Linked DNA regions of Homo sapiens: regions 1 and 3 are each linked to region 2. Evidence: fine-mapped expression QTL. A gene starts in region 2. Each other region holds a variant in brackets. All regions are shown on one strand. Distances are between the middles of the regions.

Region 1 (8,264 bases), 100 kb before region 2:
CAAAAAATTCAAAATGTATGAAGAATTGCAATTAATGCAGATGGTCCAAATCTGTGCTACTCAATACCATGCTATTCCATGTCAATAGCCATATGTTACTATATGGCACTTGGAATGTGGATCTGAACTGAAATGTCCTGTTGTGGCCAGGCGCGGCGGCTCACGCCTGTCATCCCAGCATTTTGAGGGGCCGAGGCAGGTGGACTACTTGAGGTCTGGAGTTTGAGACCAGCCTGGCCAACATAGTGAAACGCGGTCTCTACTAAAAATACAAAAATTAGCCAGGGTATGTAGGGACCAGCCCCACAGGGTCGGTGGGTTTTTCTCCCTGTGTGTGTGAGGAGATGAGAGATCGTAGAAATAAAGACACAAGACAAAGAGATAAAAGAAGACAGCTGGGCCCGGGGAACCACTGCCACCAAGACGCAGAGACCGGTAGTGGCCCCGAATGCCAGGCTGCACTGTTATTTATTGGATACAAGACAAGGAGGCAGGGTAAGAAGCGTGAGCCATCTCCAATGATAGGTAAGGTCACATGAGTCACGTGTCCACTGGACAGGGGGCCCTTCCCTGTTTGGCAGCCGAGGCGGAGAGAGAGAGAGAGGAGACAGCTTACGCCATTATTTCTGCATATCATATCAGAGACTTTTAGTACTTTCACTAATTTTGCTACTGCTATCTAGAAGGCAGAGCCAGGTGTACAGTATGGAACATGAAAGCGGACCAGGAGTGTGACTGCTGAAGCACAGCATCACAGGGAGACAGTTAGGCCTCCGGATAACTGCGGGCGAGCCTGACTAATGTCAGGTCCTCCACAAGAGGTGGAGGAGCAGAGTCTTCTCTAAACTCCTGGCCTCGAGTCTGCTAAGTAGCCCGTGTTTTCCCTTGGCACTGACGCTACCGCTAGACCACGGGCCACTTGGCAACGGGCGTCTTCCCAGATGCTGGCGTTACCCCTAGACCAAGGAGCCCTCTAGTGGCCCTGTCCGGGCGTGACAGAGGGCTCGCACTCTTATCTACTGGTCACTTCTCACCATGTCCCTTCAGCTCCTATCTCTGTATGGCCTGGTTTTTCCTAGGTTATGATTGTAGAGCAAGGATTATTATAATATTGGAATAAAGAGTAATTGCTACAAACTAATAATTAATGATATTCATATATAATCATATCCATGATCTATGTCTAGTATAAGTATTCTTATTTTATGTATTTTCTTTATTATACTGGAACAGCTCGTGCCCTCGGTCTCTTGCCTCGGCACCTGTGTGGCTTGCTGCCCACAGGGTGTGGTGGCGGGCACCTGTAATACCAGCTACTTGGGAGGCTGAGGCAGGAGAATCTCTTGAACCTGGGAGGTGGAGGTTGCAGTGAGCTGAGATCGAGTCACTGCACTCCAGCCTGGATGACAGAGGGAGACTCCATCTCAAACAAACATACAAACAAACAACAACAACAAACAAACAAAGAAACACATTAAGAAATGCTTAGTGGCCCGGCATGGTGGCTCATGACTGTAATCCCAGCACTTTGGGAGGCTGAGGCAGGTGGATCACTTGAGGTCAGGAGTTTGAGACAAGCCTGACCAACATGGTGAAACCCCGTCTCTACTAAAAATATGAAATTAGCCTGGCGTGGTGGCAGGTGCCTGTAATCCCAGCTACTCGGGAGGCTGAGGCAGGAGAATCGCTTGAACCCAGGAGGCGGAGTTTGCAGTGAGCCGAGATGGCACCATTGCACTCCATCCTGGGCAACAGAGCAAGACTTCATCTCAAAAAAAAAAAAAAAAAAAAAAAAAAAGAAACACTTAAGGATCTGGTAGGAATGTAAATTGTGCAGCTGCTATGGAAAACAGTATGGCACTTCCTCCAAACATTAGAATAGAATTACTATGATCCAGCAATTCTACTTCTATGTACATACCCAACAGAATTGAGAGCAGGGATGAGAACAGATATTGTTACGTCTGTGGCCATAGGAGTAGTATTCACAGTAACCAAGATACAGAAGCAACCCCAGTGTCTACTGATGGATGAATGCATAAACAAAATGTGGTATATCCATATAATGGAATATTATTCCGCCCTGAAGAAGAATGAAGTTTTAATATATCCTACAACATGGATGAAACTTGAAGACATTATTCTAAATGAAATGAGCCAGCTGCAAAAGGGCAAATACTGTTATGATTCCACTTATATGAGGAAATGATGGAGCAAATTTATAGAGACAGAAAGGAGAAAGGTGGGTGTCAGGGGCTGGGGAGGAGGGAATGGCGAGTGAGTGTGAGTGTTTAATGAGCACAGAGTTTCAGTTTTGCAAGATGAAAAACTTTCTGGAGATGGACGGTGGTAATGGTTGCACAACAATGTGAATATACTTCATATCAGTGAAGAGTACACTTAAAATTGTTAAAATGGTAAATTTTTGTATTTTTAGAAGAGACGGGGTTTCGCCATGTTGGCCAGGCTGGTCTCGAACTTCTGACCTCAGGCGATCCACCCACATTGGCCTCCCAAAGTGCTGGGATTACAGGTAAATTTTATGTTATACATGTTACCATAATTAAAAATAGATGCATTTTTAAATGCTTAGGGAATATTTCCAAAGCTTGGCCTTATACTGAGTGATAAATCACATCGCTATCAAAGGAATTGATATCATATACTCTCTCTAAGTTACTCATGGAGGATCAGAGGAGGAATAAAAATGTAATTAGGACAGTATCTAGTTTCTTAATTTATTTTTATTTTTAATTTTTATTTTTTTGAGAGAGTCTCGCTATGTGGCCCAGGCTGGAGTGCAATGGTGTGATCTCGGCTCACTGCAGCCTCCACCTCCCGGGTTTAAGTAATTCTCCTGCCTCAGCCTCCTGAGTAGCTGGGATTACAGGCACGCACCACCATGCCTGAATAGTTTTTGTATTTTTAGTAGAGACAGGGATTCTCCATTTTGGCCAGGCTGGTCTCGAACTCCTGACCTCAGGTGACTCCCCTGCCTTGGCCTCTCAAAGTGCTGGGATTACAGGCGTGAGCCACCGCATCCAGCTTGGAATCTTAATTTAAATGAAGCAGAGCCTTTCAGACTCTTTAAATAGGCAAAAAATGTGCCTGTGTTTATCATCGAATTCAGTGGTTCTCAACTGGGGTGATTCTGTCCTTCCAGGAAACATTTGGCAACATCTGGAGACATTTTTGGTTGTTACAACTGGGGGTGATCCTGGCATGGAGGCAGGATCCTGAGACACTCCTCAGCACCTTGCAGTGCCCAGATGGCTCCACCCAAGAGGACAATCTGGCTCCAAATATCCACAGAGCTGAGGCTTAGAAATCAAAAC[T/C]GACAAGTATTTGCAGTTTTTTATTTTATTTTTTGAGACAGAGTCTCGCTCTGTCGCCCAGGCTGGAGAGCAATGGTGCGATCTCTGCTCACCACAGCCTCCGCCTCCCGGGTTCAAGTGATTCTCCTGCCTCAGCCTCCCGAGTAGCTAGGATTACAGGCGCCCGCCACCATGCCCGGCTCATTTTGTATTTTTAGTAGAGATGGTGTTTCCCCATGTTGGTCAGGCTGGTCTCGAACTCCTGACCTCAGGTGATCTGCCTGCCTCAGCCTTCCAAAGTGCTGGGATTACAGGCTTGAGCCACAGCGCCCTGCTGCCTTTTCTTAGAAACAGAGATTTTAGTTTCAATGGTGTTTCCAGGGCAACAAATAAAGAAAATCAAGCAGAATTATAGAGATTTCAGAGACTGACAGTTACTTTACCAGAACACACCATCTGACTGTGAAGTTCAGGTGTATAGAATATACAAATCTTCTTCTATAAAAGAATATTTGCAAGTCTAGTTTCATGGTGCAGAATAATTGTTTTTTTCAGCTGTAGGGGAAGGAGAAACATGTTTTTTCCCCTCTGCTGGAAGGAAAAATATGCTGCCTCCCTTTCTCCCTCCCTTCCTCCCTCCTTCCCTCTCCTTTCCTTCCGTCCCTCCCTCCCTCCCTCTCTCCCTCCCTCCCTCTCTCTCATTCCTTCCTTCCTTCCCTCCTTCCTTCCTTCAACTTTTTTTTTTTTTTTTTTGAGATGGAACCTTGCTCTGTCGCCCAGGCTGGAGGGCAGTGGCGCGATCTCGGCTCACTGCAAGCTCCGCCTCCCGGGTTCACGCCATTCTCCTGCCTCAGCCTCCCGAGTAGCTGGGACTACAGGCGCCCGCCACCACGCCCAGCTAATTTTTTGTACTTTTAGTGGAGACGGGGTTTCACCGTGTTAGCCAGGATGGTCTCGATCTCCTGACCTCGTGATCCGCCCATCTCGGCCTCCCAAAGTGGTGGGATTACAGGTGTGAGCCACCGTGCCCGGCCTTACTTTTTAAAATTTAAATTTATTGGCCGGGCGCAATGGCTCATGCCTGTAATCTCAGCACTTTGGGAGGCCGAGATGGGGTGATCACAGGGTCAGGAGTTCAAGACCAGCCTGGCCAACATAGTGAAACCCCGTTTCTACTAAAAAATACAAAAAATAAGCCAGGCGTGGTGGTGGGCATCTGTAATCCCAGCTACTCAGGAGGCTGAGGCAGGAGAATCACTTGAACCCGGGAGGCAGAGGTTGCAGTGAGCCGAGATTATGCCATTGCACTCCAACCCTGGGGAATAGTGTGAGACTCTGTCTCAAAAAAAAAAAATTAAATTAATTAATTAATTTATTTTTTGAGACAGAGTCTCAGTATGTCACCCAGGCTGGAGTGCAGTGGTGCAATCTTGGTTCACTGCAACCTCTGCCTCCCGGATTCAAGCAATTTTCTGCCTCAGTCTATGGAGTAGCTGGGATTACAGACGCCCTCCACCACCCGACTAATTTTTGTATTTTTAGTAGAGATAGGGTTTCACCATGTTGGCCAGGTTGGTCTCGAACTCCTGACTCCAAGTGATCCACCTCCCTCGGCCTCCCAAATTGCTGGGATTACAGGTGTGAGCCACCGTACCTGGCTTTAAAAATAATTTTAAATTAAATTTTATTTATTTTTTGAGACAAGGTCTTTCTTTGTTGCCCAGGCTGGAGTGCAGTGGTGCGATCACAGCTCACTTCAGTCTCAACTTCCCCAGGCTCAGGTGATCCTCCCACCTCAGCCTCCCGAGTAGCCGGTACCACAGGCAGGTGCCACCATGCCTGGCTAATTTTTTAGTTTTATTTTTTGTAGAGACAAGGTCTCGTTATGTTGCCCAGGCTGCTCTTGAACTCCTGAGCTCAAGCAATTCACCCGCCTCTGCCTCCCAAAGTGCTGGGATTACAGGCAGGTGCCACCATGCCTAGCTAGTGGCCATTATTTATTGAGCATCTAGTTTGTGCCAAGAACTGCTAAACTAAGCACATGTGGGTCGGGTGTGGTCGCTCATGCCTGTAATCCCAGCACTTTGGGAGGCCGAGGCGGACGGATCACCTGAGGTCAGGAGTTCGAGACCAGCCTGACCAACATGGAGAAACCCCATCTCTACTAAAAATACAAAAAATTAGCCGGGTGTGGTGGTACATGCCTGTAATCCCAGCTACTCCGGAGGCTGAGGCAGGAGAATCACTTGAACCCGAGAGGCAGAGGTTGCGGTGAGCCGAGGTTGTGCCATTGCACTCCAGCCTGGGCAACAAGAGCAAAATTCCATCTCAAAAAAACAACAACAACAAAAACAAAAAAACAAACAAAAAAACCCTAAGCACTTGTGCTGTTTTAACGATACCCAGATAGTAGGGGGAAATATGAGTTATGACATAGTGGGGATGCTTTTATCACTTTTTACAGGTGAGGAAACTGAGGCACAGCAAGGTTAAGTCAGCCACTTAAGGTCACCCAACCAGTAACTGACAGAGTGGAGATCTGGATCAGAAGGAAGAATGGAAAAAAAAATCTTAAATTATTTTAAAATCACTATCCTTCCATGCAGGATCTCTTTGAATCTTCCCAGTGACTTAGTGAGGAATGAGCTATTTTTTTTCTGTATTGTACAGCTGGGGAAACTGAGGCTTAGTGAGGTGAAGGGACTTGACCAGAGTGATACAGGAGCCCCTAAACTGTGGCAATTCAGTTCTCAGGGCCAAGTTTTGGTAAGAGTGTCCTGAAGTGGGGTGAGGGCAGCGTAAAGAGGAACATGGAGAAGAAAGCGTGGGAGGGCCGGGCGCGGTGGCTCTCGCCTGTAATCCCAGCACTTTGGGAGGCCGAGGCAGGCGGATCACTTGAGGAAAGGAGTTCGAGACCAGCCTGCCCAACATGACAAAACCCCATCTCTGCCAAAAATACAAAAATTAGCTAGACGTGGTGCTGGGCACCTGTAATCCCAGCTACTCGGGAGGCTGAGGCAGGAGAATCACTTGAACCTGGGAGGCGGAGATTGCAATGAGTCAAGGTTGCACCACCACACTCCAGCCTGGGCAACAGAAACCCTATCTAAAAAAAAAAAAAAAAAAAAAAAAAAAGCAAACAGCTGGGCACAGTGGCTCAAGCCTGTAATCCCAGTACTTTGGGAGGCCAAGGCAGGAGGGTCTCCTGAGGTCGGGAGTTCGAGACCAGCCTGACCAACACTGAGAAACCCTGTCTCTACTAAAAATACAAAATGAGCCCGGTGTGGTGGCACATGCCTGTAATCCTAGCTACTCGGGAGGCTGAGGCAGGAGAATCACTTGAACCTGGGAGACAGAGGTTGCAGTGAGCCAAGATTGCACCACTGTGCTCCAGCCTGGGCGACACAGAGAAACTCTTATCTTAAAAAAAATAATAAATAAACAAACAACAACAACAACAAAGAAAAGATGGGAGATGAAGGGAAGCAGGTGCAAAGGGCTGGATTTGAAATCCTGAGATGATAAAGGTCAACACCCAAAGGCTCAAAACCCTTCTCCAAACCCTCATCTGAGCTCACCCAGCACCTGTGACGGGGGCCCACCTGCATAGAAAGACACTCAATTGGATGTTCATCACTGCATTGCGTATAACACTGTGAAGCAGGCTACGTGTCCATCAGTAGGAGAGCAGATAATAAAATGGGGTCTATGCATAGGCTGATACCAGCCCATATATCCACCCAGAAGATATAGGTGAGTGGGTTAGGGCAAGGGCTCTGAAACCAGAAGGATCTACCACTTCCTAGCTGAAGAACCTTGCACTGGTGACCTCACTCCCTCGTGCCTCCGTTAGCTCATCTGTAGTTAGGGGACAATCATAGTATCAACATCGCAGGGGTTAAGATGATCTGGGTTAAGCACTGAGCATGTGGAAATGACTCAGTAGATGAGGTGTCAGCAAACTTTTCCTGTGGATAAGACCAATGGAGACCTCTAAAATCACTTTCCTTGTCACCTCTCACTGACCAAGACAGTAAATCAATGCAAGGTTGGGCCAGGCACGGTGGCTCATGCCTGTAATCCCAGCACCTTGGGAGGCCAAGGCAGGTGGATCACCTGAGGCCAGGAGCTCGAGACCAGCCTGGCCAACATGGTGAAACCCCGACTCTACTAAAAATACAAAAATTAGCCGGGCGTGGCGGCACGTGCCTGTGGACCCAGCTACTAGGGAGGCTGAGGCAGGTGGGTCACTTGAACCTGGAAGCCGGAGGTTGCAGTGAGCCAAGACTGTGCCACTGCACTCCAGCCTGGGCTGCAGAGTGAGACTCTGTCTCAAAAAAAGCAAAAGCAAAAGCACAAACACAAACAAAAACAAAAACAAATGCAAGGTTGCATCACAGTGGAATAGCAGAGATTAATGTCGCCCTTAAGGGCCTAAAGACATGGTGAGCAAGGTCTCAGATCCCTCAGGGATGAGGATCTAGGTGACCCCACCAGGTGAGCCACCTACACCAACAGAAGGGCCACCTGAAGATGAAGGGACTCTAGAAGGGACAGTGGGAGAGGGAGAGGGTGAACACTCACGGGGGCTGCTAGACTCCACTCCTGCAGTGTAAACTGTGGCTCATCCCACCAACCTTCATTTTCTGGCTGGCATAGAGACCAAGAATCCTAAGTAGCTGTCCTCAAATGCAGTGAGTCTCCTTATAAAACAAATGAATCTGGGCCGGGCGCCATGGCTCACTCCTGTAATCCCAGCACTTTGGGAGGCTCAGTTGGGCGAATCACCTGAGGCCAGGAGTTGGAGACCAGCTTGGCCAACATAGTGAAACCCCATCTCTACTAAAAATACAAAACTTAGCTGGACGTGATGGGGGGCACCTGTAACCCCAGCTACTCGGGTGGCTGAGACAGGAGAATCGCTTGAACCCAGGAGGCAGAGGTTGCAGT
Region 2 (8,264 bases):
TTCTTGTCTGAAGAGCGGAGATGATCACAGGATAAGGAATGGGTGAGTTAGTGTATTAAAGCTCCGGGACACCGGAAGCACTCAACATGTGCGAACAATTGTTATTCATTCTCACAACAACCCTCTGTATCCGGGTCTTCTGCCCTGAGACACCAACACCCGCGGAGTCCCTCTCTCCTTCCTTCCAACAATCAGAAGACTTGAAGGCAAAACTAAAAAGTAAGTGGCTTTCTCTCTCTGCTTCTCATCCCACCTGATCAGCCCAGGTGCGTGTGGGCATCACACCAGGGAAACGCAGACGAAGGATCTGAGCGAGCCCCCGGTCCCCAACTCACTGCAGATCCTTGGTGTTGATGAGGAACAGGACCAGGAAACTGCTACTGTTTTTCTGGAGAGGGCAGTCCTGGAAATCCCGGGTCTGGGGGGTGGGCAGGAGGGAGTGAGTCTTGGTTACTCCTCTCCTGGTCCAGCTCCACCCTGTCTCCCTCCCTGTCCACCCACGGGATCTTCCTGCTCCTGCCTCTGACAAAGAACAGGGGCCCTTGGGTTACAGATGCAGAGGACAGACCCTACCCCCTCCCTCCAGCCCCTTCTCCCGTCTTCCCCATGCCCTCCACTCACTGAATAGGAGCGAACTCTGCCAGACCGAACCCGGCTGAGACTGAACCCCACCTGGTGGGTGGAAAAAAAAAGGGGAGGGTGTGAGGGACAGTAGAGACCTCCCAGCTATCCCTTTCAGTAGCAATAGAAACCTAACCTCACATTTACTGAACACCTAACATGTGCTAGATCCCACACGCTCTTTTTCTTTTTTAGAGTTGGGGTGGTGGGTGGACCTCATTCTGTTTCTCAAGCTGGAATACAGTGGCAGGATCATAGCTCACTACAGCCTCGAACTCCCAGGTTCAAACGATCCTCTCACCTCGGCCTCCCGACTGGCTGGGACTACAGGCACACCTCACCACGCCCGGCTAATTTTAAAAACTTTTTGTAGAGACGGGGTTCTCACTATGTTGCCCAGGCTGGTCTTGAACTCCTGGCCTCAGGCAATCCTCCCACCTTGGCCTCCCAAAGTGCTAGGACTACAAAGCCTGAGCCACCGCGCCCCGCCTGTCCCCCAAGTCTTAAGAAAAGTGCCTAGCACATCCTGTGTAAGACATCATTACTCCCAGGTACAGATGACGAAACAGGCTCAGAGAGATGACGGGACTTGTACAAGATCACATGGGTAGCGGCAGAGCTGGGAACCCAGAACCGGGGGATTGCACCGTGCTCTCCTCCAGCAAACTCCTCAAGGTCCCTCACCAGCAGGGACTTCTCTTCTGCCTCCCGGAGGCCCAGCCGCAGGACGCTCAACTCCACCTCCAGAGAGCCATTGGTGTAGAAACCGAAGCTGTTCAGCTGGATGTCCGCTCGCTTCTCCCCCTGCCGGAGACCAAGGAGGCAGAGGCAGTTCAGACCTCTTTCCGCCTGCCCAGCCCCAGGGGTCTGGCACGAGGACCTCCAGAAGGGCCTCCTGGTACCCCTCTATTTAGGACAGGCCCAGAGGATGACAAGAGAAAGTTGAGAGGGACTTCCTCCCTGCAGGGGAAGGGTGGTCCTGCATTCTCCGACCTCTGTTCTGAGAACCCAGGAACAGAGATCCTGCGGCACCTGGAAGTCTCCCCACTGGGGTGAGCACCGCCCGGAGAACAGTTATTCACCTCGGCGTGCCTGACCTTCACCTTCCCGAAGAACTTTTACATTCCAGTTGAGCTCCCAGCAATATTTCAACAGAACCCCCCAAATCCCATTAAGTGCCCAGAGGACCCCACTCTATAGCCCCCCAGGACCCCGCTGTGCGGCTCCAGGGTCTCTAGCGCCCCAAAAGTGATTCCAAGAATTTAAAGGACTAAGACCCAGTTGGGGGGAAGGGGGGTGTAGTCCCCAAGAGATGGAGCCTCGCCCCCGAAGGGAGGGGGCCGACCCCAGCGAGGCGGACCCGGCAACTCCATCCGGAGGACCGAAGGGGATCCCGGGACGAGACCACTCCGGGCCCGGAAACGGGGGGCGCCGGACCACTCCACCGCCTCGGGGACGGGGGAGGGCGGACGAGACCACTCCAAGCCAGGGGGCTTCTCCGAGACAAAGTTGCGCCACCGACCCCAGACCCTCGCGCGGCGGGCCTCACCGTCAGCGCCAGCTGGTGGATGCGCCCGGAGCAGCCACCCAGCAGCAGCACCAGAAGTAGCCGCTGCCCCCACTCCGCGGGGCTCCCGCGGCCGAGCCCCCTCCTCTCGCTCACTGCCATCTCTGGAGCCACCTCCTCCCCGACTCCGCCTCTGGCGCCCAAGCCCGCCCACCGATGAGCCAATCGCCGCACGGCGGGGCCCGGCCTTTCGGAGTTTCCAGTCCGCCAACCAATCAGCAATTGCCTCTCCGCAAGCCCGCCTGCTTGCGTCACCGACGGACAGCACCGGTTCCGAATGGGAGAGCCGATAACGCTTAACCCCCAGCTCACTCTCACCAATCGCTATAAAGATTGTCCGGATGTGATTTAATGAGCAGTTTATCTAACCAATTGTCATGGATCTGATATCCGGCCCTTAAAGCGGAATTTCTCCACCCACTCTTAACTGTCCGGGACTACATTACCCAGAATGCAGCGGGAGCAGACAAGGGCCACAAAGCATTAAATAAACTACCTTTCCCAGTATCCCCAAGGACGGACTTCCTCTTCTTGAGCCAGGGATGTGGCTCCCAGCCAGAGCTGAGGCTTTTGGTAAACACACGCATCTGTTCAGGCCTGACCTGTTTTCCTAATCTTCCTGGTCCACAGAGAGGCCTAAAGCTGGCCTCAGGTTAAAGTTTGACCCTAGGATGACCTATGACCCCAGGCTGAGACCCCAGCCTTAGGCTAAGCCTTTTATTCCAGAGTGAGGCAATTGGAGCCCCACCCCCAGATTCCAGGCTAGACCGGACTCCGGGCTGAACTCTGACCCCAGGTGAACTCCCTCTCTGCAAGTTGAGTCCTAACTTCAGCCTGAAACTCTGACACCCCCTCGTCCCCCACACCACACACTGAGGCTTAATCTCTGGTTTAGGCCACCGATCTGGACTAGCCCTGACTCCAGATTGGACCTGACCCCTTACCGGGTTGCTAATCCTTCTGGTTAAGCCTCTGGCCTCTATCCCCTATCCCCACGGTGGTGCTGACCTGGACTGAACCCCAATTCCAGTTTGAGTCTCTGAGCAGAGGTGAACTCAGAACTTTGCTAGGCTGAGCCCCCATTTGAGACTAGCCACAGAACTCACTGGGTTCAATTGCCCAACTGCAATCAGACATTTTCTAGCTCAGAAGCCACCAGCAGGTGGGGCCAGGTCTCAGCAGAGACATCAGTCCCAGTGTGGGCTCCCAAGGCTCTCCTCCTGGGCTCAGCTGTATCTCTCTGTTCTGGGAGCCTGGGTGCTCTGTGTAAGGGGAACGTATACCCAAGGGCCCCCCTGCAAGACGCCCAGCCTTGTCTGAGGCTGCAGAGAAAGCGCCAAAGCCCGGAGAGAATGGGAGTGGGAATCCCCAGTGCCTCCTCTCCTCTTTCATTCCAGCACCTCAAAGGGATTTACAAGGTGTGAACAGACTTTTATGGGAGAGGTGACAGACTTCCCTTCTCCAGGGCCCAGATGGCCCAGATGTCTGGGGGAGGGGCGGAGTCGGAATCTCAGGGGCAGTACTGAGAATGAAACCAGGTTAAACTGGAAAATGGGCAGATGCAGGCGCGAACTGGAAGGCAGCTGGGGAAAGGCCTGGGCCTGGCGCCCCAAGGACGGCCTGTCTTCAGTTTCCCAGCGGAGACTCTGGGGGAGGGAAGGCAGGATGCGGTGCGGGAGTTAATGGACCTGGCCTTGGCGAAGGCGCGTCCTGGGTTGGATCGAAACCCTCTCATCCGCCCTGTGGCCGGAGGGACCAGACCATTAGTGGGACGAACCTAGACGCCTGGAGCCGGGCCGGCTCGCAAGAACGGGGTGACCTCAGGTTGCCCCTGCAATGGGGTTGAGGAAGGACTTCTTGAGTTTGGGGTTTTAGTGTCTTGGCCCTTTAAGGAATAATTGCGGGGAAAGGGGAAAAGGAGATGGGAAGAACCGTTTGGAGCGGGGAAGGAAGATGAGAGGACGAGAGGGACCCCGGGGATTTGGAAAAAATGGGTGGGGGTTCTTTAAGGGGTCGGTCCAGCGGCGTCGAGTGGCAACGTTGCTTTAAAAGGGGGCGGAGCGTCCGTTGGGCCCCGCCCCCGAATCGCAGTGCTTGGGCTCCGCGCGGGTGGGGGCGTGGCAGAGCGTGCAGGGGGGCGGGGAAGAGTCTGGGGTGGGCGGGGCCGGGCGGGGCGGGGCGGGGCCAGGCGCACCGCCCTCGGCTGAGTCTCCCCGGGGAGGGCGGCGGGCGGCGGGCGGCGGGGACCGGGTGCGGTGGTGGCTGCGGCGGCGGCGGCGGGAGCAGCATGGATTGGGGCACTGAGCTGTGGGTAAGTCCAATCGGCCCGCCTCTAAGTTCCCCTTTGCTGGGGTCCAGGCACCCCCCTTTTGTCCCCAATGTATCTTAGAGGGGGCTCCGCGCCTTTCCCTTCCACCGACCCCTGGGTCCCCGCCCTCCACCCTCCGCTCTCTCTCGAAGTTTATCTGGGAGTCTCAGCACGCTCAGGGGCGAAGGGCGACTTTGCCGGACCGGAGTGGGGAAACTGAGGCACAGGGTTGCGAATGAGGCGGGCAGAAGGAATCCTGGGGCCAGGCCGGGGCGGCTGAGAGAGGTCACCTATTTTGGGCGCCCTGGCCGGGCAGGCGGCTTATCTTACGGCCCCTGGGTCCCTGCCCGTCGTCCGCCTGTCCGGCTAGGAGGGGGGAGGGGACCCTCTGGTCACCCTCATCCCCACCCACGTGGGACCTAGAAGTCCTGACCGCCCTTTCCCTCGCCTTTAATCAACACCTAGGGGCTGGGGACGCTCATGGAGGGGAAGGGGGATGCTAAGCTCGGCCTGATCCCCCTCCCTGGCTTCCCCCTGCTCACCCCAGGCCCAGGGCGGGACCGCCCCCTGGTCGCCTATAACCTCAGCCCTGGAAGCCCCAGAAATTTCCCCCTATCCTAGCCGGACCTCTGACCCCTCCCCTTGCTGGGGGCGGTGGAATCCCTGAGTTCTTAGTGCAGCGGGGGTAACCAGACTGCCACCCCCTCCTCCAATTCTGCGATTTCTTTTGGATGTGTAGTGGGGTCAGTGGGGTAAATTGAGTCACCCATCGGGGGATCCCTGGAAGCAGGGAGATTCAGGGAACCTGGTGCCTGCCCCCTGGCCACTCAGGGGCCCCCAGTCTGCCAGGAACCCTGCCCCTCTGGCCTTGACTCACGCCGGGCCGGCCGGATTTTCCGGAATCCGGGGGGATTAGGGGAGCCCGAGCTGGGGGAGTGGCCCTGTCCCCTTCCACGCCCCTCTTGGCGGTCCTATGTCGGAGACCTCCATCTCCCGGCCGGGGTGGCTGGGGCCTGGGCGCTGTTCTCCGGCCCTTCCCGGGAAGGGGAGGGGGTTCCCGCCAGTTTCCTGCCTCCCCCCGCGCCACGCCGGGGCGGCGCCGGGAAGCCACTCCTTCTAGGAGCGCAGAGCCTTGGCCCTCCCTGGGAGTCTGGTCGGCGGGCTGTGGGGTCCCAAAATCGTGACCCCGGCCCCTCTCCCCTCCTCCCCCACCATGTCCCATGTCAGGATCAGTTCGAGGTGCTCGAGCGCCACACGCAGTGGGGGCTGGACCTGTTGGACAGATATGTAAAGTTCGTGAAAGAACGCACCGAAGTGGAACAGGCTTACGCCAAACAACTGCGGTGAGACCCTGGGGTGGACGCTACGGAGGACGCGCCTGGGGCGACGGGGAGCGGTGGGAGGGCTGCGGGCTCAGCCCTCCTACCTCTGTCTCCCCTTAGGAGCCTGGTGAAAAAATATCTGCCCAAGAGACCTGCCAAGGATGATCCTGAGTCCAAGTAAGGTTGGAGAGGGGCTGCAGGGCTAGATTTGTGGGGAAAGGCGGTGCTTGGGTCTCACTTCCCCTCCCTCAGCTGGGACACCCCACCGCTCCTCTCACTTCCCCTTCTAGAGGTGAGAGCATGGATGCAAGATGCGGGATTATCTGGCTTGGAATCCTGAGTCCACTACTATGTAGAGAAATTGACTTGGGCTTGTGACTCAGGTTTTCTGCCACTATTTTCCTTAACTGTTAAATACAGAGGCCCCAGCAGTTACAAAACCAGTAACTTTGGGCAGATGACTTAAAGTTTTGCGCCTCTGTTTTCCTCATCTGTGAAATGGAATGATGACGATTCCTCCAGCTTTGTAGGGCTTTCATGAACACGAGCTGAGTGAATGTGTTTAAACAGTGTGCAGTCCATATCAAACGCCGTAAGGAGCATTTGACTTGGAATTGAGTCCCCAATTCCAAAATCCAAAAAAGCCCTGGAAATCAAGTTGTTTTGGTCACTTGTTTGGCAGCAATCTCTGACCTGAACTTTTTGTTAATTGTAGTTGTTTTGTTTTGTTTTTGACAGAGTTTCACTCTGTCCCCCAGGCTGGAGTGCAGTGGCGCCATCTCAGCTCACTGCAACTTCCGCCTCCCAGGTTCAAGCGATTCTCCTGCCTCAGCCTCCCTAGTAGCTGGGATTACAGTCACCTGCCACCATGCCCAGCTAATTTTTATATTTTTAGTAGAGACAGGGTTTCACCATGTTAGCCAGGCTGGTAATTGTAGTTTTGACTTTTATCCCACTTAGTGTGAATGTTAACACCTCTCATTGTAAAATTAAAAAAAAAAATAGGGTTGGGCACAGTGGCTCACACCTGTAATCCCACACATTGGGAGGGTGCGCAGGTGGATCACTTGAGGTCAGGAGTTCGAGAGCAGCCTGGTCAACATGGTGAAACCTTGTCTCTTCTAAAAATACAAAAATTAGCCAGGCGTTGTGGTGCGCGCCTGTAATCCCAGCTACTCAGGAGGCTGAGGCATGAGAATCGCTTGAACCCGGGAGGCGGAGGTTGCAGTGAGCCAAGATCGCACCACTGCACTCCAGCCTGGGCGACAGAGTGAGACTCTGTCTCCAAAACAAATAGATACGGTGTTTGATTACAAAATGATGTCCCCAACCCCACTAAGATGATGCAGAAAAGATGGTATAAGCTTTGTACACCATCTTTAAAAACTGGAAAATTCTGTGTTCCAATATACATTCGAGGTCCAGTGCGGTGGCTCACACCTGTACTCCCAGCACTTTGGGAGGGTGAGGCGGGAAGATGCGGAGTTCGGGGGGATTGGAGTTTGAGACCTCATCTGGAAAAAAAAAATTAGCCAGGTGTGGTGGCGTGTGCCTGTGGTCCCAGCTATTTGGGAGCCTGAGGTGGGAGGATCACTTGAGCCCAGGAGTTTGAGGCTGCAGTGAGACGCAATCATGCCGCTGCACTGCAGCCTGGGTGACAGCAAGACCCTGTCTCAAAAAAAAAAAAAAAAAAAATCTACTCAAGGGTTGGGGTTAAGGAATATGGACCAGAATTTGTCATCGCTTCAGGGATTACATTCTTGGGGCTTAACCCTTTTCCACCTGGAGGTGCGTCCTGGGGCATCAGCCTGCTCGGGAGGAGGGGCCTGACTCCCTGTTCCCCGATTCTCATCCAACCCCAGATTCAGCCAGCAACAGTCCTTCGTACAGATTCTCCAGGAGGTGAATGACTTTGCAGGCCAGCGGGAGCTGGTGGCTGAGAACCTCAGTGTCCGTGTATGTCTTGAGCTGACCAAGTACTCACAAGAGATGAAACAGGAGAGGAAGATGGTGAGGAGCCCCCCGATTCAGGTTTTACAAAGGGCTTCTGCTGGAACCCTGGCGAGCCTTATCACTCTTCTTTCTGTAGCACTTCCAAGAAGGGCGGCGGGCCCAGCAGCAGCTGGAAAATGGCTTTAAACAGCTGGAGAATGTGAGTTTGCAGAGGTAGCAGTGACTGTGGCCCGGAGGCATGGGGGCAGGGTTGCGGATCCGGAGTCAGGGAGCTGCCCTCTTTGTCAGACCTGGACCTTCCCTCCCCCATAGGCTTCCAGTACTCCCTTGACCCCTACTTACTGGATGACATCCCAATAATCCCTGAAACCTTGGTTTCCCACCCTGCTGTCTTTGGGATGGTGGCTCCCTCACTCCGGTTCTGTCCCCTACACAGAGTAAGCGTAAATTTGAGCGGGACTGCCGGGAGGCAGAGAAGGCAGCCCAGACTGCT
Region 3 (8,000 bases), 63 kb after region 2:
TATTGACATACAGTAAATTACATATTTAAAATACATTGGTGGGGCGCGGTGGCTCACGCTGTAATCCCAGCACTTTGGGAGGCCGAGGTGGGCAAATCACTTGAGGCCAGGAGTTCAAGACCAGCCTAGCCAACATGGTGAGACCCTGTCTGTACTAAAAATACAGAAATTAGCCAGGCATGGTGGCACGCACCTATAATCCCAGCTACTCAGGAGGTGGAGGCAGGAGAATCGCTTGAACCTGGGAGGCGGAGGTTGCAGTGAGCGGAGATCGCATCATTGCACTCCAGCCTGGGCAACAGAGTGAGACTCTGTCTCAAAAAAAAATATATGATTTGGTAAACAATTTTTTCTTTAATTTCTAGATTTGTTTTCAGAAACGGTCTTGGCAGGGCATGGTGCCTGAAGCCTGTAATCTCGCCCCTTTGGGAAGCTGGTGTGGGAGGATTGCTTGAGTTTAGGAGATCGAGATCAGCCTGGGCAACATGGTGAGACCAGCCTCATCTCTAATAAATAATAAATAAATAAATAAATAAATAAAATAATTAGCTGGTCATAGTGGCATGTGCCTGTAGTCCCAGCTACTTGGGAGGCTGAGATGGGAGGATCATTTGAACCCAGGAAGTCGAGGCTGCAGTGAGCCAGGATTGCACCACTGCACTCCAGTCTGGGTGACAGAGTGAGACCCTGTTTCTCCCCTTCCCCCCCCCACCCAAAAGAAGGGGGAAAAAAGAAAGAATCAGGGTCTCCCTATGTTGCCCAGACTGGCCTTGAACTCCTGGACTCAAGCGATCCTCCTACCCTAGCCTCCTGAGTAGCTGGGATTACAGGTGTGTGCCACTGAACCTGGCCTGATTTGATAAATTTTGACATATGTGTGCAACTATGAACCCAGCCTTGAAATCAATGGATCATATCCATTGCCCCTCAAAGTTTCCTCCATCCCACCCCTCCCTGCCTCCCCCTCCTCCCACCTCTCATTCCCTCGTACCTCCTGATTTGCTGTTAGTCACTGTCGATTAGTTTGTATTTCCTGGAGTTTTATGTAAGTGGAATGGTACCATCTGTGGTCTTCTGTGACTGGCTGCTTTCCCTGAGCATGATGTCCTGGTTCATCCATGTTGTTGTATGTATCAGTGTACCATTCTGTTGTACGGATGCACCCCAGTTTGTTTATCCATTCATCCCTTGATGGAGGTTTTTTTGTTTGTTTCGCTTTGTTTTTTTGAGATGGAGTCTCGCTCTGTCGCCCAGGCTGGAGTGCAGTGGCGCAATCTCGGCTCACTGCAACCTCCGCCTCCCAGGTTCAAGCGATTCTTCTGCCTCAGCCTCTCGAACAGCTGGGACTACAGGTGTGCGCCACCACGCCTGGCTAATTTTTTTGTATTTTTAGTAAAGACAGGGTTTCACCATGTTGACCAGGCTGGTCTCGAACTCCTGACCTCATAATCTGCCCACCTCGGCCTCCCAAAGTGCTGGGATTACAGGCGTGAGCCACCATGCCCGGCCTATACTTTAAGTTCTGGGATACATGTGCAGAACGTGCAGGTTTGTTACATAGGTATACACGTGCCATGGTGGTTTGCTGCATCCATCAACCCATCATCTACATTAGGTATTTCTCCGAATGCTATCCCTCTCCTAACCCCCAGCCCCCGACAGGCCCCAGTGTGTGATGTTCCCCTTGGTTGAGGTTTGAATTACTGATGGCACTTTTGGCTATCATGAATCAAGTTGCTAGCTGGATATGGTGGCACATGCCTGTAGTCCTAACTCTTTGGAAGGCTGAGGCAGGAGGATTGCTTGAGCCCAGGAATTTGAGACTGCAGTGAGCTGTGATTGGGCCAGGCTGCACTCCAGCCTGGGTGACAGACTGAGACTGTCTCAAAAAAAAAAAAAAAAAAAAAAGGAAAGAAAAGAAAACAGAATCAAGCTGCTATGAACATTCTGTACAAGTCTTTGTATGGACATGTGCTTTCATTTCTCTTGAGTAAATGCCTGGTAATGGAATATATCGTATGATAGGTGCATGCTTAATGTTTTAAGAAAACTTACCAGGCCAGTCACGGCGGCTCATGCCTGTCATTCCAGCACTTTGGGGAACTGAGGCGGGAGGATTGCTGGAGCCTAGGAGTTTGAGACCAACCTGACCGACATAGTGAGGCTCTGTTTCTTAATTTTTTTTTTTAATAAGAAGAAAATGTACCAACTTTTCTTCCTTTGTGCTGGAATTGCAAGGTAAAAAAATAATAGTAATAACAAGGAAAACGTACCAACTTTTCCAAAGTGGATCTGCCATGTGATGTTCCTGCCAGCTGCTCAGCATGCTTCTCTTCTTTGCTTCACTATCTGTCTCATTTTTTTTTTTTGAGATGGGGTCTTGCTCTGTTGCCCAGGCTGGAGTGCAGTGGCATGATCTCGGCTCACTGCAACCTCTGCCTCCTGGGTTCAAGCGATTCTCCTTCCTCTGCTTTCCAAGTAGCTGGGACTACAGGCGTGTTCCACCACACCCAGCTAATTTTGTATTTTTAGCAGAGACAGGTTTCACTATATGTTGGCCAGGCGCGTCTCAAACTCCTGACCTCAAGTGATCAACCCACCTCAGCGTCCCAAAGTGCTGGGATTACAGGCATGAGCCACCACACCCAGCTTCTTTTTTTTGTTTTGTTTTGTTTTTTGTTTTTTTGAGACATCCTCGGTCTGTTGCCCAGGCTGTGCAGTGGCGTGATCTCGGCTCACTGCCACCTCCGCCTCCTGGGTTCAAGCGATTCTCCTGCCTCAGCCTCCAGAGTAGCTGGGATTACAGGCGCCTGTCACCACGCCTGGCAAATTTTTGTGTGTGTGTGTGTGTGCAGTCGGGGTTTCACCATGTTGCCCAGGCTGGTCTTGAACCCCTGACCTCAAGTGATCCGCCCGCCTCAGCCTCCCAAAGTGCTGGGATTACAGGCGTGAGCCACCGCACCCAGCCGCTCACCATCTCTTTGTCGCCTGCATGGCACCATTCTCTCCTGTACCACCCCAAAGCCTTACCAGGTGCCTCCTGCATTTAACCAGGTCCCATAGCTCTCTGTGCTTCCCGGCACACCCTCTCACCACCCTCATCATCAATTATTCACCTTGCTGACTGCTTAGTGTTTGTCTCCTGGCTGGATTACATAAGCCCTGTAAGGGCAGAGCTCTGTTTGTCTTGATCACCATTAGGTTCTGGTGCTTGGCATACAGTAGGCATTCCACACATGCTTGCTGAATTAATGCATGACCGGGTCTGGGGTGCTGGGTTTCACACCAGGCTCTACCGCAAACATTGGGTCAAGTATTTTCATTCCCGACGTACAGATGAGTCAATTGAATCAACGGAAAGCAAAATGATCCCATCCAAGCTCCCTCAACTTGCCGGGCTGGTCTGGGAGTCGAACCAGATCTGCCTGACCCTCCCACCGGTGCTGAAAAGTGGAGTGTGTGCTGGGGTGGTAGGGGATGGGGCAGAAGAGAGACGGGCTTCCTCACAGAAGGGTTTGAGGGCTAGGATGAGGCGTGCACACTCTGCACCCCTGCTTCGGAGCTTTGAAAGGGTGCACAGCACACCCGCCCTCTCTGGGAACCCTCGGGAGCTTGAGGTTGCCTGATGAAGGGGCTGATGGGTTGAACGCAAAGGGCCCCTCCACCCACCCTTTTTTCTATCTCCCCAACCAAGCCCTGGTAACAGGCATTTCCGGTTTCCGGCCGGCTCCCTGGTGCTGGGGTGGGGGTGGGGAGTTGATTGCTGCCGTCGTGCTTGGCTCTGGGTCCCCTTCTCCCAGACCCCAGAGGCCTCTGTCCCTGCACACTGCTTCCCCGAAGGAGCGTGGAAAGCCAGCCGACCTTTCTGGCTCTTTCTTCATCTTGGGCAGGGGTTTTGTTGATGGGAGGCTGGCTGGCAAATGGGGAAGAATGAACCTCAGGGTTCACCGCAGTGCGCCTGGGTGCTGATTTGCATATGGGCACGATGCCAGCACAGTGGGTGCCCGCCTCTTCCTGGAGGAAGGAAGAGGGGCACTGAGGGGGGTTGCCCCCAGCAGGGAGGAACCGTCCTCATAATGCCTCTCCTACGTTTGTTTAAAGGACCATCATTCTCAGCAAACTATAGCAAGGACAAAAAACCAAACACCGCATGTTCTCACTTATAGGTGGGAATTGAACAATGAGAACACATGGGCACAGGAAGGGGAACATCACACACAGGGGACTGTTGTGGGGTCGGGGAAGTGGGGAGGGATAACATTAGGAGATATACCTAATGCTAAATGAGGAGTTAATGGGTGCAGCACACCAACATGACACATGTATACATATGTAACAAACCTGCACGTTGTGCACATGTACCCTAAAATTTAAAGTATAATAATAATAAAATTAAAAAAAATAAAGGACCTCCTGTCCTTTGCCACTTTCTCACACTCTTCAGGCGACCAGGAAGTCCTTTCTGGTGGTCTAACTGCAGTCACTGCTGCTGTCTGATGGAGCCCCTTTCTTTAGCTGGCCCCACCGCAGCCCGGAGAGGGGATGAATCATGCCCCCTTTCCCCTCTTTGAGGCATCACATGACTGGAAGGAAGCTGTCTC[C/T]GGGTTCAGCTGATCTCCCTGAGGTCAGGAGGGAACTTCCTCCCTCGAGCCACAGACACAGCCATCTGCTCTATTGTCTCTGGTGATCTGCCTGCCCATGAGCGCCCTCATTATGCCACTCTCTAAGAGGCACCAGGAGCAGCTTAGTGTGGTTCAAAGAGGCAGTGTTGTACAGAGGTTAGAGGCACAGACTTTGGGATCCAGTGCTGGTATCTGGTTCTCCATTCCTATCTGTGTGGTCCGGGATGGGCAGTATCCCCTCTCTGAGCCTCAGTTGTTTCCTCTGTCAAAGGGAGATTTATTCATTCGACAGATTTTATTGAGCATCTACTATGTGTCAGACATGGTACTAGGTATTGAGGTCCTCTATTTACCCAAAGGAGTTGAACATTTATGTCCACACAAAAACTTACACTCAAGTCTTTGTAGCGGCTTTATTCATGATTGCTGAAACTGGGAGGCAACAAATTGTCCTTCGGTAGATGAATGCGATGTAGGGCAAGGCAAGCCCTAAATTGGGGCTCAGCCTGGGACGGTTCTTTGTTTTGCCCAGGAAAGAATTCCAGGGCGAGCTGGAGGTGTTAGACAGTAGCTTTTACTGAAGTGAAAGTGCATAGCGGCAGTTGCAGAAGTCCTGCTCCTCGCAGAGCAGGGCTACCCCACAGGCTGTGAGCCCGGAGTAATCAGGGTTGCAGTCATCTTTGTACCCACTTTAATTATATGCAAATTAAAGGGCAGATTATGCAAATTTCTAGGAAAAGGGTGGTAACTTCTGGGTTGTCGGGTCATTGCCTTGGGAAAGGAGTAGTAGCTGCTGGTGTTACCATCACAATGGCAAACTGCCATGGCACACTGGTGGGCATGTCTTATGGAAAGGTGCTTCTGCTCCAGCCCTGTTTTAGCTAGTCCTCAATTTGGTCCGTTGTCTGAGCCCCACCTCCAGAGTCAAGTTCCACCTACTTCCTCGTATGGATAAATAAGCTGTGGTGCATCCAGACAATGGAATATTATTATTATTATTAGAGATGGACTTTTGCCCTTGTTGTCCAGGCTAGAGTGCAATGGTGTGGTCTCGGCTCACTGCAACCTCTGCTTCCCAGGTCCAAGCTGTTCTCCTGCCTCAGCCTCCTGAGTAGCTGGGTTTACTGGCACCTGCCACCACACCTGGCTAATTTTTGTATTTTTAGTAGAGATGGGATTTCACCATGTTGGCCAGGCTGGCCTCAAACTCCTGACCTCAGGTGATCCAGCCACGTCGGCCTCCCAAAGTGCTGAGATTACAGGTGTGAGCCACTGCTCCCAGCGCAGACAATGGAATATTATTCAGCACTGAAGAGAGATGAGATGAGCTCTCAAGCCATGAAGAGACACGCAGGAACCCCAAATGCATATTACTAAGTGAAAGAAGCCAGTCCCAAAAGGCTACATACTATATGATACCAGCTATGTGATGTTTCAGAAAAGGCAAAACTGTAGAAGCAGTAAAAAGATCAGTAGTTGTCAGAGGTTAGTGGAAAGGGGGTATGGATAGGCAGAGCATGGAAGCTTTCCACGGCAGTGAAAATACTCTCTATGACACTATAATAGTGGATACCCATCATCATACATGTGTCCAAATCCAGAGAATGTGACGCACGGCAGGCAAGCCCCAAAGTGGGGCTTAGCCTGTGAGGCTTCTTGGTTTCACCCAAGAAGCCTCACAGGCTAAGGAAAGAATTCAAGGGTGATTCCAGTGGTAGGGTAGACGAAAACAGCTTTATTGCCGTGGCAGTGTTACAGCTCCATGACTGCTCTTGCAGGGCTACCCCACAGGCTGAGAGTAGCAGCTCAGGGCAGTTTGGCGGTCCTATTTATATTTATTTATTTATTTATTTAGAGACAGAGTCTTGCTCTGTCGCCCAGGCTGGAGTGCAGTAGTGCAATCTCAGCTCATTGCAACCTCTGCCTCCCAGGTTCAAGCAATTCTCCTGCCTCACCCTTCTGAGTAGCTGGGATTACAGGCGCGTGCCACCACGCCTGACTAACTTTTGTATTTTTAGTAGAGATGAGGTTTCGCCATGTTGGCCAGGCTGGTCTCAAATTTCCGACCTCAGGTGTTCTGCCTGCCTTGGCCTCCCAAAGTGCTGGGATTACAGGCATGAACCACTGTGCCCTTCCCATACCTCCTTTTTTTTTTTTTTTTGAGACGGAGTCTTGCTCTGTCGCACAGGCTGGAGTGCAGTGGCGCAATCTTGGCTCACTGCAAGCTCTGCCTCCCACGTTCACGCCATTCTCCTGCTTCAGCCTCCCAAGTAGCTGGGACTACAGGCGCCCGCCACCATGCCCGGCTAATTTTTTGTATTTTTAGTAGAGATGAGTTTTCACCATGTTAGCCAGGATGGTCTCGATTGCCTGACCTTCCTGAGGCGTGAACCACCCGCCTCAGCCTCCCTAAGTGCTGGGATTACAGGTGTGAGCCACCGCCCCCCGGCCCATACCTCCTTTTAATTACATGTAGAGTAAGGGGCAGTTTATGCAGAAATTTCCAGGGAAGGGGTAGTAACTTTTGGGTGATCAGGTAATTGCCATGAAAAGCGGTGGTAAGGCCGGGCGCAGCGGTTCATGCCTGTAATCCCAGCACTTTGGGAGGCCGAGGCGGATGGATCACCTACAGTCAGGAGTTCGAGACCAGCCTGGCCAACATGGTGAAACCCCGTCTCTACTAAAAATACAAAAATTAGCTGGGTATGGTGGCACACACCTGTGATCCCAGCTACTCAGGAGGCTGAGGCAGGAGCATCGCTTGAACCCGGGAGGTGGAGGTTGCAGCGAGTTGAGATCATAATACTGCACTCTAGCCTGGGCCACAGAGCAAGACTCCATCTCAAACAAAACAAAACAAAACAAAAACAAAGAAAATAGACCAGTTGTGGTGGCTCACATCTGTAATCCCAGGACCTTAGGAGGCTGAGGCAGGAGGATCACTTGAGCCCAGGGGTTCGAGACCAGCCTGGGCAACATAGTGAGACCCTCATTTCTACAGATACACACACACACACACACACACACACACACATACACGCACACACACATGAGTTGGGGGGATGGTTTCAGGATGAATCAACCACATTACATTTATTGTTCACTTTATTTCTATTATTATTACATTGTAATATATAATGAAATAATTATACAGCTCACACATATGTGTATATATATATGCACACACACTATATGAATATTATATATAGTAATATTTATTCATTTATATGAATAAAAAAGAAACTAAAAGAGAGGAGGAAAGGAAGGAAGGAAGAAGGAAGGAAGGAAGATCAGCCTGGAGTCTCTGGACTGCCCTGATGGAAGTGTCTTGGATGCTAAAGGGGTTTATGGGCTGATTCCCTCAACTTCCTCCCGTCT

Direction of the effects. Positions count from the first base shown, and alleles are read on the strand shown. Sizes are in standard deviations (SD) of each study's normalised expression. Not every link is listed here.
For the expression in skeletal muscle of the gene that starts at base 4,394 in region 2, C is the low allele of the variant in region 1 and T is the other (large effect, 1.2 SD a copy in FUSION).

Evidence for each region. PIP is the estimated chance that this variant, and not a neighbour inherited with it, causes the effect.
Region 1: its variant is fine-mapped to the expression of TRIP10 in skeletal muscle (FUSION, PIP 0.95).
Region 3: its variant is fine-mapped to the expression of TRIP10 in whole blood (TOPMed, PIP above 0.99).

What each region holds. Positions count from the first base shown.
Region 1 is chr19:6,632,436-6,640,699 of GRCh38, forward strand. No RefSeq gene overlaps it. Among named protein-coding and RNA genes, the nearest start is that of TNFSF14, 34 kb to the right of the region's middle. RefSeq lists an enhancer at 7,238-7,287. The variant T/C (reference allele first, on the strand shown) is at 3,336.
Region 2 is chr19:6,735,287-6,743,550 of GRCh38, forward strand. TRIP10 (thyroid hormone receptor interactor 10) reads left to right here and starts at 4,394. Exons shown (of 15, transcript NM_001288962.2): 1 at 4,394-4,499; 2 at 5,724-5,839; 3 at 5,939-5,995; 4 at 7,681-7,828; 5 at 7,908-7,970; 6 at 8,208-8,264. The coding sequence starts at 4,476. GPR108 (G protein-coupled receptor 108) reads right to left here and starts at 2,294. Exons shown (of 18, transcript NM_001080452.2): 1 at 2,171-2,294; 2 at 1,306-1,425; 3 at 622-672; 4 at 336-418. The coding sequence starts at 2,290. It overlaps MIR6791 (microRNA 6791), which reads right to left and starts at 1,492; the gene lies at 1,426-1,492. RefSeq lists enhancers at 1-645, 1,169-1,318, 2,759-2,818, 2,951-3,719, 3,799-3,888 and 3 more and silencers at 1,109-1,263, 1,629-1,790, 1,939-2,108, 2,209-2,268, 4,239-4,518 and 1 more.
Region 3 is chr19:6,797,959-6,805,958 of GRCh38, forward strand. The region is part of intron 1 of VAV1 (vav guanine nucleotide exchange factor 1); the gene reads left to right. Among named protein-coding and RNA genes, the nearest start is that of VAV1, 29 kb to the left of the region's middle. RefSeq lists enhancers at 3,754-4,274, 4,065-4,134, 5,017-5,236. The variant C/T (reference allele first, on the strand shown) is at 4,602.